Linked DNA regions of Homo sapiens: region 2 is linked to region 1. A link means that fine-mapping ties the variant in region 1 to the expression of a gene that starts in the linked region. Tissue or cell type: whole blood. Region 1 holds a variant in brackets; the other region holds the start of a gene. All regions are shown on one strand. Distances are between the middles of the regions.

Region 1 (8,620 bases):
CAACCACCCTATTGATTTAATACCGCATTTCTACTCTCCCTGGCATTCCACAACACCTAACTCTGCTCTACTTTTTCTTTGTTTTCCATAGTACTACTTATCACCTTGTGACTTAACATGTTATTTTCTGCTCACACTTTAAAAAAATCCAGGCCGGGTCGGGTGGCTCACGCCTGTAATCCCAGCACTTTGGGAGGCCAAGGCAGGTGGATCTCATGAGGTCAGGAGTTGAAGACCAGCCTGGCCAACATGGTGAAACCCCATCTCTTAAAAATACAAAATAGCGGCCAGGTGCGGTGGCTCACGCCTGTAATCCCAGCACTTTGGGAGGCCGAGACAGGCGGATCACGAGGTCAGCAGATCGAGACCATCCTGGCTAACACGGTGAAACCCCATCTGTACTAAAAATACAAAAAAATTAGCCGGGCGCGGTAGCAGGCGCCTATAGTCCCAGCTACTTCGGAGGCTGAAGCAGGAGAATGGCGTGAACCCGGGAGGCGGAGCTCGCAGTGAGCCGAGATCGCAGCACTGCACTCCAGCCTGGGGGACAGAGCGAGACTCCATCTCAAAAAAAAAAAAAAAAAAAAAAAAAGAAAGCTGGGTGTGGCGGTACGCACCTGTAATCCCAGCTACTCGGGAGGCTGAGGCAGGAAAATCACTTGAACCCAGGAGGCGGAGGTTGCAGTGAGTCGAGATCGCGACACTGCACTCCAGCCTAGGCAACAGAGCGAGACTCTGTCTCAAAAAATAAAAATAAAGTAAAATACCTAACATAAAATTTACCATCTTACCATTTTAAGTGTACAGTTCAGTAGTGTTAAATCAATTCACAGTGTTGTGCAACCGATCTCCAGAACTCTTTTCATCTTGCAAAACTGAAACTCTGTATCCATTAAACAACTCCCCATGGCTCCCTCTTCCCAATCCCCTGGCAACCGCCATTCTACTTTCCGTCTCTATGAATTCAGAGAACACTACTCTAGGTCCGTTATATAAGTGGAATCATACAGTGCTTTCCTTTTGTGACTGGCTTATTTTGCTTAGCATAATATCCCCAAGGGTCATCCATGTCATAGCATGTGCCAGAATTTCCTTTTTTTTTTTTTTTTTTTTTTGATAAAGAGTATTGCTTTGTCACTCAGGCTGGAGTGCAGTGGCACGATCTTGGCTCACTGCAATCTCTGCCTCCCACGTGCAAGCAATTCTCCTGTCTCAGCTTCCCGAGTAGCTGGGACTACAGGCGCCCACCACCATGCCTGGCTAATTTTTGTATTTTTAGTAGAGAAGGGGTTTCACCATATCAGTTAGGCTGGTCTCGAACTCCTGACCTCAGGTGATCCACCCACCTCAGCCTCCCAAAGTGCTGGGATTACAGGTTTAAGCCACCATGCCTGGTCAATTTTCTTCCCCCCCTTTTTTTTTAGACAGAATCTTGCTCTGTCGCCCAGGCTGGAGTGCAGAGGCCCAATCTCAGCTCACTGCAACCTCCACCTCCCAGGTTCAAGTGATTCTCCTGCCTCAGCCTCCCAAGTAGCTGGGATTTCAGGCATACACCACCACGCCCAGCTAATTTTTGTATTTTTAGTAGAGACAGGGTTTCATCATGTTGGTCAGGCTGGTCTTGAACTCCTGACCTCGTGATCCGCCCGCCTCGGCCTCCCAAAGTGCTGGGATTACATGCCTCAGCCACCGCGCCTGGCCAATTTTCTTCCTTTTTAAGGTTGAATAATATTCCACAAAATTTTGTTATATCTGGAATGGGGTATATTTGATGCCCACTTGATAACTCTGCTTAGCTGTAACAAAGATACCTCAAATGAACACTACCAAAAGAGAATCAAGCTTCTTCCACTAACCCTACTTCTGTCCTGTGCTTCTTGTTCCTATCTCAGTAAATGGCTGCACCCAGGTGCTCAAGCCAGAAACCAGAGATATAGCATTTCTTCTTCACTGTTACTGTTCTTTATCCAGTTGCCAGTGATAATTACTAAAATGACTTACATATATTGAGCACTTACTCTCTACTACACATGGTTCTAAGGTCATTGCATGTGACTTAAATAAATAAAACATTTACTCCTCTCAACTCTATGAAATGGAATCTACTATTTTTAGCTATTGTACAGATGAGGAAACAGGTGAAGTCCCTTGCCCAAAATCCAGACAGGAAGTGGTGGAGCCAGAATCTGTGCCCAGGTAGTCTGGCTCCAGAGCCCACACCCTAAACTTTTATGCTATTCAGGAAATGCTTTCTGTTTCAACCTCGTTTATTGGAAATCATTCTACCAATGTATTAGTCCACTTTCCTAAATGTGTAAGTGAACATAATTTTGTCCAGGTCCTTTATCTCTTTCCATATAAAGTTTGGCTAATAGAGATACCAATGCGAAGAAGATAGGACTGTGTCTATGGTAAGCCTAGGAAGTTTTGGTTAAGAGCAAAACTTAAAGGGGAAGTTAAGTTTCCCCTTTAAGTTTTGCTCTTAACCAAAACTAAGTTTCCCCTTTAAGTTTTGCTCTTAAACAAAACTTCCTAGGCTTTTGGGAAGTTGCTTCTTAAACAAGTCCCAAGGATGTTCTCCCTGCGAAATTGCTCTTAAACAAAAGTCCTAATAGCATTTGATTTTCCTGTGTTTTGATATTTTTTTCTCTAAAGTGGAATATGTCAGCAAGTCAGTTTACTTGAAGACTGTGATTAATCAAAGCTATAATGTAGCAGATACAGTTATTAATATCAACAAGGTACATCAATCATAAACACCATTAAAAAACTTAAAACTTTCCTTCTTTGAGGTTGCATTGATCTTGGAGGCAAAGTGGGCTGGAAAGCAGACAGTCCAAGCCTGAGTCCCATCAGATTAAATGAATCATATACTTAAAATAAACCACAATCCTTCTGGTACCAATAATGCCGTAAACTGAAAATAATAATAAAGGCCAACTACTTAAGATTTCTGAATTAAAGTTGAAAAAAAATGAATGCAATTACAAGGAGTAAGATGAATGCAGGTCGAGAAAGTGTCACTTTTCCATTTTAAGCTTATTCAGTGTCTAACAGCCAATATTATATAAGTTTACCATCGAGTTAACATTAAAATACGATGCATTTTAAAGCAAAAGTGTGCCTTTTGAAGTCCCTAAGGTGCCTTTAGAAAACAGAGGATACAGTACCAGCAAGAAGCTATTTGGGCAAGTCCATAGATCACATGGGCTGGGAAGAGACAAGCACTCAATGTTACCAGAAATTCAAGGTCAGCACTTGCAGTTTCATTTCCATCACCCCAGCACTCCCTTTGACAAAGGATTATAGTATCTACTGAAAAGTTGCATTCATTCCCAACTTGCTATTTCAGCCTCAACCACCACTCATCCCTCCAGAGAATTCAATTACTTTCGCATTCCCAAATAACAAGCAAATGATGATTTGGGGGGCCTCTTTTTATATGACATCCAAAAAGATGCAGAAAATAAAGAACAACAGTAAGCCAGAAGTGATTTCAGCTTAAGTATGATTTTTACATACGCATCACTAGACAAAAGTATACAATTAATGGGGTGGGGGTAAGCTCTAAATCTTATCTAATTTTTAGAAAATACTTTAAAAATACTTGGCTAATCTAATATTTTGTCTAACCTATATGGGTTTTTCTTCCTGCTTTTCCTCACCCCATATCCAATATTCAGTTGAGACTTCCAAAATGGAAAAGTATCTCTGCCTGTCCTTGCTCTGAAATCAGAGCATTCCAAAATGAGCCTCAGTTTGTCTTTTCCTTGCAAAAGAATGTACTGTTGATTAAAACAAGAGAAAACCACACCAGTGCATACACAGTCTGATCTTAACCACCCAGAAAGCAGCCTGGCATCCTCTGTCAAGCCTCTTAGAGACAGGCAGGCCTGGAGCAGCCCACACAGCTTCTGCCTGCATAGCCTACCAGCTCACAATGATTTTGGTGACTACGGACTGGCCTAAGCCATTACTGCTGTCCAATACATTGTCTAAAATATGGTCATGAACACTTAAAACCTCACCAAGGAAGTCTTGATGCTTCATACGCATTATCTTAATACTCTCCAAATTTCTTCAAAAGAGAACTACTATGTGACAGCAAGTTAGTTATAACCAGGCACTAAGTTTTTTGCTTTCCCATCTCATTAAACTACACAT[A/C]ATCTAGATTCAGTTTAATACAACTGCTATACCAGAGTAGGAACAGGACAGGCTCTGGGTTTCAATTCCTTTTCTTCCCCTTCAGCACTGCATTAGCATTTTTCTTCCTTAAGAATGATTTGATTTAGTCTTACTGACAAACCACTGAAGGACCTACTATAAGTTGCAAAGGGAGAGTTGCAACTTCCAAATCTTCCATGAACCATCAGTGTTTAAAGCATCCCAGCCAGGCATGGTGGCTCATACCTGTAATCCTAGTGCTTTGGAAGGCCAAGGCAGTAGGATCACTTGAGCCCAGGAGCTCAAGACCAGCTTGGGCAACACAGACCCTGTCTCTACAAAAGAATAAATAAATAAACACATAAAAATTAGCCAGGAGTGGTGCCATGCACCTGTAGTCCCAAGTACTTGGGAGGCTGAGGAGGGAGGATCACTTGAGCCCAGGAGGGGAGGCTGTAGTAAGCTATGATCAGATCACACCATTGCACTCCAACCTAGGTGACAGAGTGAGACCCTGCATCTTAAAAAAAAATTAATCAAAAAAATTTTGCTTTCTCTTCTGTTTTCCAGAGAGGGTTTGGCATCTATGTGGTAATGTCAATGAATGAGGAGATCTGCTCCCTAGCTGTTAGGGACCTAATATGACCACAGGCTAAAGAGCTCACTGAATTTTAGTGCAGGAAGGGCTTTATAGACTACTTATTTAGGAGATGGCAAATAGATTTCACTTGTCATGCCAACCTCTATTGCTTGGTAATGGCTTCCTGAAATCACGTGTTGAGCAGCATTCCAGGCCTGGACTGGAGTTTAGAGGGCAAGGTGTTATGGATTTACAATGTCTGCCACAAGCTCTTGAGGGAGGTGGGGCTCAGGAGGGAACAGTGGCACAGAGCCATATATTTGCCACCCCCGAGCTGACTCTACTATAGACAACTAAGTGACTTGTCGTCTACTGTTTTTCCCACTAAACGTTTTTAAAAAGTAGTGATCATATCAATAATAAAAAACTATTTCAAAATATTTGCAATAACATATCTTTAAATAAAATACATTGTCCCTGAAAATGTATTTCCCTCATTATCTCTAATATTATTATATTAATATAATATTATATTAATTATTATCTCTAATAATAATGAGGTCCTCCTTGGCATGTCCCATAGAGAGCCAAAGGTGGAATTTCTAGGCTTTTCTTCAATTGCATCCTGACAACTACCATCTTCTAGAACTCTATGAGTAAGATGGTTAAAAAAAGAGCTAGGAAGTTCTCCAGCAGTTATATGGCTTCTGTGATGGGACAGGACAGGTAAGGGGGAAGAAAAGGAAACAGAGGTTTAGGAATCAAGCAAATACCTATAGGCTCATACCTATAATCCCAGCACTTTATGAGGCCAAGGCAGGAGAATGGCTTGAGCCCAGGAGTTCAAGACCAACCTGGGCACCAACATAGCAAGACCCTGCAAAAAATTAGCTGGGCATCGTGGTATGTGACTGTAATCCTACCTAATAACAAGGCTGAAACAAGAGGATCACTTGAGCCCAGGTGCTCAAGGTCACAGTGAGCTATGATTACACCACTGTACTTACAGCCTGGGCAACAGAGTAAGACCCTGTCAAAAGAAGAAATGAAAGAAACGAAACAAAACGAAAAGAGGGAGGGGAGGAGGAGGAAAGAAGCGAGTAAATATCAGTGCAGTGATCCCAATGACAAAGGAAACTATTAAGCAGGAAAGTCAATGTGATGTTTTGATAGGAAAAATGGAGAACCAAAGTTTCTTGAACTTGACTAGTGTATTAGCCCATTCTCTCATTGTTATAAAGAAATACTGGACACTGGGTAATTTACAAAGCAAAGAGGTTTAATTGGCCACGGTTCTGCAGGCTGTACAGGAAGCATGATGCTGGCATCTGCCCACTTTCTGGGGAGGCCTCAGGAAGGTTACAATCATGGCAGAAGGCAAAGGGGGAGCAAGTACTTCACAATGCTGGAACAGGAGTAAGAGAGGGAGTGGGGAGGTGTCACATACTTTTAGACAACCAGATCTCATGAGAACCATCAGGATGACAACTTCAATGGGGATGATGTGAAGCCATGAGAAACTGCCCCCATGATCTAGTCACCATGCCCCACTTCCAACACTGGGGATTATAACTGAACATGAGATTTGGGTGGAGACACAGATCTAAACCGTATCAACTAGCAAAGCTATCTTGATCAATTAGTCAATACGATTTATTTACTTGCTGTCTGCTCTGTTCTTAATGCTGTTATGGACCAAGTGGACACATCTGAGGAAAAAAAAAAAAAACAGATCCTTTTGTAGCCAGCTTATCCAATCTCTCCCTCTACCCTAAGGCAATCTTGGACACCCAGGCCAGGTCAGATCTCTGGAGAGGCAGAATCAGCCTCCCAGTACCTACTCAGTGTTGGCAGCCAACTGGCTCCCAGGTGAGGAGAACATTTCTGGCAGTAAAAGCAGTACACAGCAGGCAAGAGACCCTAAGAAAAAGCAAGGGAGAGGAGAGAGGCATGTGATTCCGGAGACAAATAAACACAATTAGCTGTGCTAGAAACAAACTGAAAAGACTCAGTGGGACGGCTGATTCCTTCCGCCAAGAGAAAACCAAAGGAGAATTCATTTAAAAGAAACCTTTTAGTTCCCTTGGCAGCTATGGCCCAATGACAGTCGTATTTTCTATTAAGTCCTTTTCATTGTGGATTTCTCCAAGATTTAAAACACTATCACAAGAAGGGTTTGACTGCTTTATCAGTTTTGCTGCCCTAATAGAATCCATTAATATTTCAGGCTGGTCCTTTCTTTCTTTCAGACGGGCCTTTCACAGCTATTCTGTCCCTGTGTACCTAAATGAACCCAATTTGCAGCAATGGGAAAATGGTTGAATTCATAGAAATCAACAGTCATGTCCGTGGGAGTTTGTTAATCCCAGGATCCAATTCTGTAATGCAAGGATTAGCTACAACAGTGGGGTCTGGTAGCAACCATGTAGCATGGCAGTAAACAAGATGGGCTTTGGAGTTAGGCAACTTGGATTTGAATCCTGACTCCGTCAGTTACAAGTTGGGTGACCAGGGGCAAGTAATTTAAACTCCTTGTGTCTCAGAGCCTTCATCTGTCAAATAGGGATATAGTGATATCTAACAGTGTTATTGTGAAGTTTAAAGAATTATAATAAAAGGGTCCTTACCTTTTGGAAACACATTTTAGAATGTTCACAAATAATATGATGTCTGGGATTTGCTTTAAAATAATCTGAAGATATATATATATATATCCATATATATATATATATATGGAGTTGGCCATGAGCTAATAATTACTGAAATTGGTTGATGGGCACATGGGGATTTATTATACCATATTGTCTACCTCTGCCTGTTTGAAATTTCAATAACAGAAAGTTTAAGAGAGAGAGAGAAAGAAAGAGAGAGAGAAATACATGTAAAACTCTTAGCACACATGTGCTCATTAAATGTAATCTGTTGTAGATCAGAGGTTTTGAGGGCATTGTTTCCAGGTCACAGAGGTGCCAAGAGACCAGCCTGCCTCTCTAGAAACATGGGTGGGTTCTGGGGCCAACATGAGGGAGTTAAACACATGGAGAACTTCACTGTCACTCTAGATCATCCACTACTGCCCAACCTTTTCACTATCAGTAACAATAAGTTGATCATTATTGGTTCTCTATGCTTTGGAAGTTTACTAAATCTCACATCCTTCCAATATTCATTACCTAGATCTTTTACAGATATACAGAATCAGAGTTCCGAGTCAGCTTTAGTTGAGCTGGTAGTGGCTCCAAACTGAGCTACTGTCATTTCCAGCCAAAAGCTAAGCATTTCCAAGTTTTAATGGCTCGTGCAGCTGCCTGACAGACATGTATGTGGTTTCACAGGCATACAAAATAGTGAAAAAATGTTCAATGCACTCCATGCCTCCAGTGGGTTCAGGAAACCACTTACATCAATTCAGAGCCAGCCCCAGAAATTCCCAGCTTCTAGGATTTCTTAGATAGAGTGCTGAGCTGGACAGACAGGGAACTCCACCCTGGAGTAATGCCAAGCTAGATATGCACTCCAAGGAATCCCTTAATTAAACCAGCATTTCCAAACACGATTTCATGCCCCCACACAAACAAGGCATCTGCCATCTTTGCTCTGACACTAACTTTAAGAGCCCTTGCACTAGCCACTTCATCTCTGTTTCATTTGTACTGGGATATCTCCCTCCTAAGGTTGTTGCAGGGACCAAAGGTAATGCAAGTAAAGTACATTGCACAATGCCTGGCACACAGTGATTGCTCAATACATGGTAGCTATTTTATGTCTTTGTATGCTTTTACATATGCATGGATATATTATTACCTCCTTTGGAATTTGGTTAATATTTAGACCCAATGGTTCTCTAGGCCATGAGATGTATCACAGCCACATAAT
Region 2 (6,080 bases), 90 kb after region 1:
GCATGGTGGCTCACGCCAAGGTGGTAGGATCACTTGAGGCCAGGAGTTTAAGACCATTCTGGGCAGCATAGTGAACCTATCTCTCAGAAAGAAAAAGAATGGGGATGACTTCTTACGGACTAAGAAATCAGATTACTGAAATTAACCTTGGCAAATACCAATGAATCACTAATTGTTGGCAAGCCAACTGTGTTGTTATATTTAATGGGAAAATCATGATCACTGATGTTCTCTGTCTGGCTCCTGGATTTTCCGGCTCTTTTTAGCATATCTAACCGGAAGGACTCCAGGAAGCAACAGAAGAGTGCAAAAGGGAGACAAGAAAGGTGATCAGACTCGTTTATTTATTTATTTTTTGAGACAGAGTTTCACTTTTGTCACCCAGGCTGGAGTGCAATGGCGTGATCTTGGCTTATTGCAACCTCCGCCTCCTGGGTTCAAGCGATTATCCTGCCTCAGTCTTCCAAGTAGCTGGGATTATAGGTGCCGGCCACCATGCCTAGCTAATTTTTTTGTATTTTTGGTAGAGACGGGGTTTCACTATGTTGGCCAGGCTGGTCTTGAACTCCTGACCTCAGGTGATCCACTTGCCTCGGCCTCACAAATTGCTAGGATTACTGGTGTGAGCCACTGTGCCGGCTGACCAGACTCTTTTAAAAGAGTTTTATAAAGGAGTCCATTTAGTATTCCATAATGTTCTTTGAGCATGGAGTAAATGCATCTGATGGCTTCCAACACTGTCGGAATCCGAGCCAAACAACACCCTGCCTATGTTATTTTTTTTAGCCAATTGGACTTCCAGCAGAAAAAGGTCCCACTCAAGGAAGTGTCTGGGTTGGTTGTATTGTAAGTTTTTTGGTGGAAGTGGGAAGGGGGTTTGAATTTGGTTGTCTGAATTGTTTCAGAATGCACTACAGTGCTTCCTCCCCTTCTCCTATCCCTTGACTCCTCTCCAACTACCATTCACCACCACTACCAATGGTTAACATTTATTTAATGCTTACTACATACCAGGCACTTTTTTCAGTAGTTTACATCTGTTATGACTTCACTGGATACTTAAACATTTGAGTTAGATACTACTAACCTAATTTGAAAGGTGAAGAAACTGAGGCACAGAGTGGTTAAGTAAGTTGCCTAGTCGTGCAGGTAATATACAGAGCAGCCAGAAAGAGTAACCAAATCTGCCTGTCTTGGTGCTTGAAACTCTAGATGCTACAGCATCTGAAGATTCTGACTTCACACTGCAGAACTGTGAGGTTAGGGCAAGCCTGTGCCTACAGATTATTCCTTGAGCTGCTGTGACACCTGGAGGCATAGATTTGCTCACCTCCAAGCTTTGGTGGCCTTTGAGTAAATGTCAAAGGACTGCTAATGAATTATGGCACTTTCCTGAGTGCCTAAACAAGTTATTAATTACAGGGTATTATTTGAAATGTTTTGCAACATATAATGTTCATTAGTTTGAACAAAGGTATATATAATTTCTTGTAATAATATTTATTATGGATTTGTATTGTGTCTTTGGGTATTTTTTGGACCCTGAGGACATAGAAAAATGGCAGTATTACATCTATTTTGCAATCTCTTTGCAATCTTGTTTTCTTTCCATTCTCTTCCTGTATACTCTGCTCTCCAGGGAGCCCCCTAGCGTTTAGGCAGCCTTGGAGATGGGCTTGAGTCCATTAAAGTCTAGGGTGGAAAGAAAATTGAAATGGAGGAAAGCAGGAATGTGACCCAAGTATGGAAACTGTAGATACACTACTTTATTAGATTATATGTGCTTTTTAATTTTGAATCAGGATAGAGGAGGACTACGGGCTAAGCTCAGCTGGACTTTTTATGAGATATGTACAAATGCCCCTAATTTTTCTGTAGCAACAACCTGATTGATTTTGGGCAGTTTGCAGGTGTCGGGGATAACAAAGGAAATACATTTCCTCTGCTTAAAGATTTCATGCCCTAATGAAAGAAGGGAGAAACACCAATTAAATAGCGGTGTGTCCTTCACAGCTGAAGATGATTATATTGGGACAAATCAAGTCTTTATCAAAGACCATGGCATGATTAATTCATTAAATAGAATTGTCTTTACATAGTTTCCAAATTTGCCATTAGCTCATGGAATGTTAGAGTAAGACAGATTATCAGAGATATTCTAATTCAGTTTCTTCATCTTATACTGTATATAAGGAAACAAGCCCAGAAAAAAGTGTGAGAATCAAAGATGTGGTTTTCAGATTTCCACTCTTTTGGACTTTCTACTACAAATGACTCGACTTCTTTGCTAGTTTGAACTAAGCTTCCCGGTTCTTTTAGTGTTAATTTCAAATTGTTTCCAGAGCAGAGGATATCTCAGTACTCTGTCCAATAAGTTCATAAAATAAGAGTTATGAGTAAAAAGTCTTAATAAATCAGTAATTACCTCTTGCTATATAACGGCAAACAGTATCTTTATTCTAGAATTTTCTTTTTTTTTTGCCCGTTAATAAACATAAAAGCAAGCAGTCAAATGACAGCCTTTTTGCTTTGGCTAAGGATCGATTTATCTGCCCACTAGGATGGCACAAAACATACAGTAACTATAAACTGAATAATAACTAGAAATACATATACCCACACAAATAGATGGCCTATATATTTTGTTTAGGCAGATTATTCTTAGAATATTTATCAGTACATAGTGAGTCCTGAAGACTTTAAAACATAAGCTAATAGTTGGCTGAAATTTCAGATAAAGAATTATCAAATGTCTGATGTTGGGCAATCCAGTATTTCAGCTTCTTGTTCAGTAAAATTAAAAACACATGCTGGGGCAATGGGCTTGCTCTTTATTGTGCAGAGTGGTTACATGGGTGTAAGCACAGGTAAAAATTCACTGAGCTGTACACTTAAGATTTGTGCATTTTACTGTATATACATTATATCTCAAAATAAAACTAGAAATATAAGAAAAAGCCAACCACGACGGACTGAAAACAAACATACAAATTTGGACGTGCGATGATCTTTTAGTCATTATGGTTTCAGATTTGCTGTTAGTTACTGATTGATATTTAATCAAAGTGACGTGAAACACTTTTTCCCCTCTTGAGCTGATCGTTCAGTAAGCTAAGTTACTTAAAAGGATCTTGTGATCTTTTTATAAGACCAGAAAGCCTTTAATTTACCTGTTATTAAGTAAGATGGAGTAGTAACGGTTTCCAAAATTTGTATAACACACGATGAAGTCTCTAGGGGGCAGGGTAAACACAGATTTTTTTTTTCACTTCATCCTTCTCTGCGGCGATGTCTTTATGGAGTTCGTCAGGCAACGGTATCAGATAGCAAATGGGTTTTTAACTAATCTTTCCCTAAGGTACTGTAGTTCTATATTCTATCCTATAGATTCTCAAAATCCACTTTTACACTAGGATGCCACTGGAGGGCAGTTCTGATTTGGATATATCTTAAAAATGATTTGCTTTTATGTTTTCATCTCCCTGCGTTATAAAGCACCATCCTCTGAATTTGGTCGTTGCATCGGGTCAAAAGTTCTGCAGCTTGAAAAACCCTGCAAAAACATCCGGAAAGGAGGGAGAACACTACAACTCCCAGAACGCAATGCTTTCCCTCTCGCCAGCCTGTCCCCTCCAGCTGCTCAATGACCAGCCTCTGTGAGCCTCCTCTCAGCCCTATTGGTCAGTTTGCTCGTCAGTGAGTGAGGCGGAGGGAGGGGAGGAACAGAGAATCCCGGATGGTACGTTTCCCGCCACCGCGGGGCGCGCAGCGGAAAACCCGAAGAAGAAGAAGCTTTTGATTGGACAGTCGCTAGTCCGACCTCAGAGAACTCAGCCAATCATAATGCTTATATGCTCCCAAGGTCCCCGCCTCTTCCTCGAGGTAACCTTTGGTGGCGGGAAGAGTTCGGAAGTTTTCGCGCCGGGGTGGAGTCATCCTGGGAACCTCCACGCGACTTTGGTGGAGGTAGTTCTTTGGCAGCGGGCATGGCGGGTACCGTGGTGCTGGACGATGTGGAGCTGCGGGAGGCTCAGAGAGATTACCTGGACTTCCTGGACGACGAGGTGAGGGAGGCGCCGGCGCGCGGGCTCTAGCGCTCGGAGCCCCTGCGGACGCGGCCCGGCCGGGAAGCCAGAGGCCCGCCAGACCTCCAGACCGTGTGCCGCAGCGGAGCCTGCCGGGCCCGAGCCTCCAGCCCCAATCTTGTAACTTCTCAACGCCGGACTCGCTAGTTTGTGTTCGATAAGTGAACTCTTAGGAAGCCAGCTTTCTCTTAAGTACAAGCGATGGTCCGGGCGCGCAAAAGGCGACAGGTTCCCATTAAGTGCAAGCAGATTGGCAAAGCCCACCTCGGCCTTTTGCATTTCACTGCTCTCTCTTGATTTGAGGAGACTGTGGGGGAGGGGCTGCCCTAGGGCTATAGTGACCAGCCGCGTTGCAGAGTGCTCAGATTTTAGGGACTGACGTTTTACCTGGAGGAAAAGACTCCATAATTCGGCTGCATTCTTTTTCAATACCAACTAAGATGCAGATAAAAAGTGTTTTGTGTGCAGGCCAAGGGGATTTTATGTGCAACCCAAGACTTAAAGCCATAGAATGTTGAAAAAACCATCTTGAAGGGTTGATGATGTGACCAAATAGCTGAGATTCTCTATTCCTTTAGGTCGGGGTATGAGAACCCTTTCCGTATTATAGAGATGATTGGAAAAAATATTACTTTTTACATAATTCTTAAATGAAAAGCCATTTTAATGTGACTATTAAGAGTCTGTTTTATTTACATTTTTATTGTATATATTTGAAGTGCACATGTTTTGATATACATGGTGAAATGATTACTACAGTGAAACAACATATCCATCTATTCACGTTGTTACCTTTAACATTCACATTGCTAGGTTTAACTTAACATTTTAACAAAGTTTGCACTTACTGTCCATTTAGACTTCTCATGAGCTCATTTTAATTCTCCACTAAAGACAGAAATTACAGCATGCAGAAAAGTTGTCCATGATGATGGGAATAACAGCATGGACCTTGAGGAAGTCATTATAATTCTTATAGTCCCCTCTTAGGGTGTTATTTCGAATCTAAAAACAGTGAATGAAAGGGAGAAATTGATGAGCACATACTTACTGGGGATTCAGCTCTGCTGCAGAGATTGACTTAGCTATCTGGCTATGAGAACTACTTCTGTTTAGAAACATTGTTTTTAAATTTGTGGCTATGGTGATATGTGGTGGCTGTTTTGCAGGAAGACCAGGGAATTTATCAGAGCAAAGTTCGGGAGCTGATCAGTGACAACCAATACCGGCTGATTGTCAATGTGAATGACCTGCGCAGGAAAAACGAGAAGAGGGCTAACCGGTGAGAGGCAAGGGGATATACTGGCTGTCAGTGAGAATGGCTCCCTTCCCTCTTGGCCAGATTGGAACAGCCTCTCAGGAGAGGACTTGTATGAAACAGGATTGATCTACAAGCCCTCGTAGCTCACCTGCACCTATTTTTTTTTTTTTTTTTTTCAAAAAGTGGGTGGTTGGCATTTTCCTCCCAAATGCCCCTCCTTCCAATGTTTAGCTGAATATCATTTTTATATCTTTGATAAGTTGAGGTGAAGTTGGTCCTTAGTTCTGGTATTTTACTGAGTCTTATAGGATGGTGTTTTACTGAGACTTATAGGAGAAAGCAGAAGCTGGATTTTCTCATTGTTTTTAATGATCTAAGAATGTCTGCTGTTTTGAGGATCCATTTTTTTGAGTTCTGCCCAGTCTAATTTTTCTTTCTCTTGCTTATGTACAGGCTTCTGAACAATGCCTTTGAGGAGCTGGTTGCCTTCCAGCGGGCCTTAAAGGATTTTGTGGCCTCCATTGATGCTACCTATGCCAAGCAGTATGAGGAGTTCTACGTAGGACTGGAAGGCAGCTTTGGCTCCAAGCACGTCTCCCCGCGGACTCTTACCTCCTGCTTCCTCAGCTGTGTGGTCTGTGTGGAGGGCATTGTCACTAAATGTAAGTGGGTTAAAGGGGGCCGCTTAGGAAATGAATAGACAGGGAGATGGGGAAAGCAGGAGAGGCAAAGTA

What was found. PIP is the estimated chance that this variant, and not a neighbour inherited with it, causes the effect.
Region 2: it holds the start of MCM3, and the variant in region 1 is fine-mapped to the expression of MCM3 in whole blood (TOPMed, PIP 0.95).

The regions. Positions count from the first base shown.
Region 1 is chr6:52,371,592-52,380,211 of GRCh38, reverse strand. The region is part of intron 1 of PAQR8 (progestin and adipoQ receptor family member 8); the gene reads right to left. Among named protein-coding and RNA genes, the nearest start is that of PAQR8, 14 kb to the right of the region's middle. The variant A/C (reference allele first, on the strand shown) is at 4,165.
Region 2 is chr6:52,282,581-52,288,660 of GRCh38, reverse strand. MCM3 (minichromosome maintenance complex component 3) reads left to right here and starts at 3,919. Exons shown (of 17, transcript NM_002388.6): 1 at 3,919-4,064; 2 at 5,255-5,367; 3 at 5,800-6,008. The coding sequence starts at 3,987. RefSeq lists a silencer at 1,293-1,362 and enhancers at 3,442-3,641, 3,962-4,041.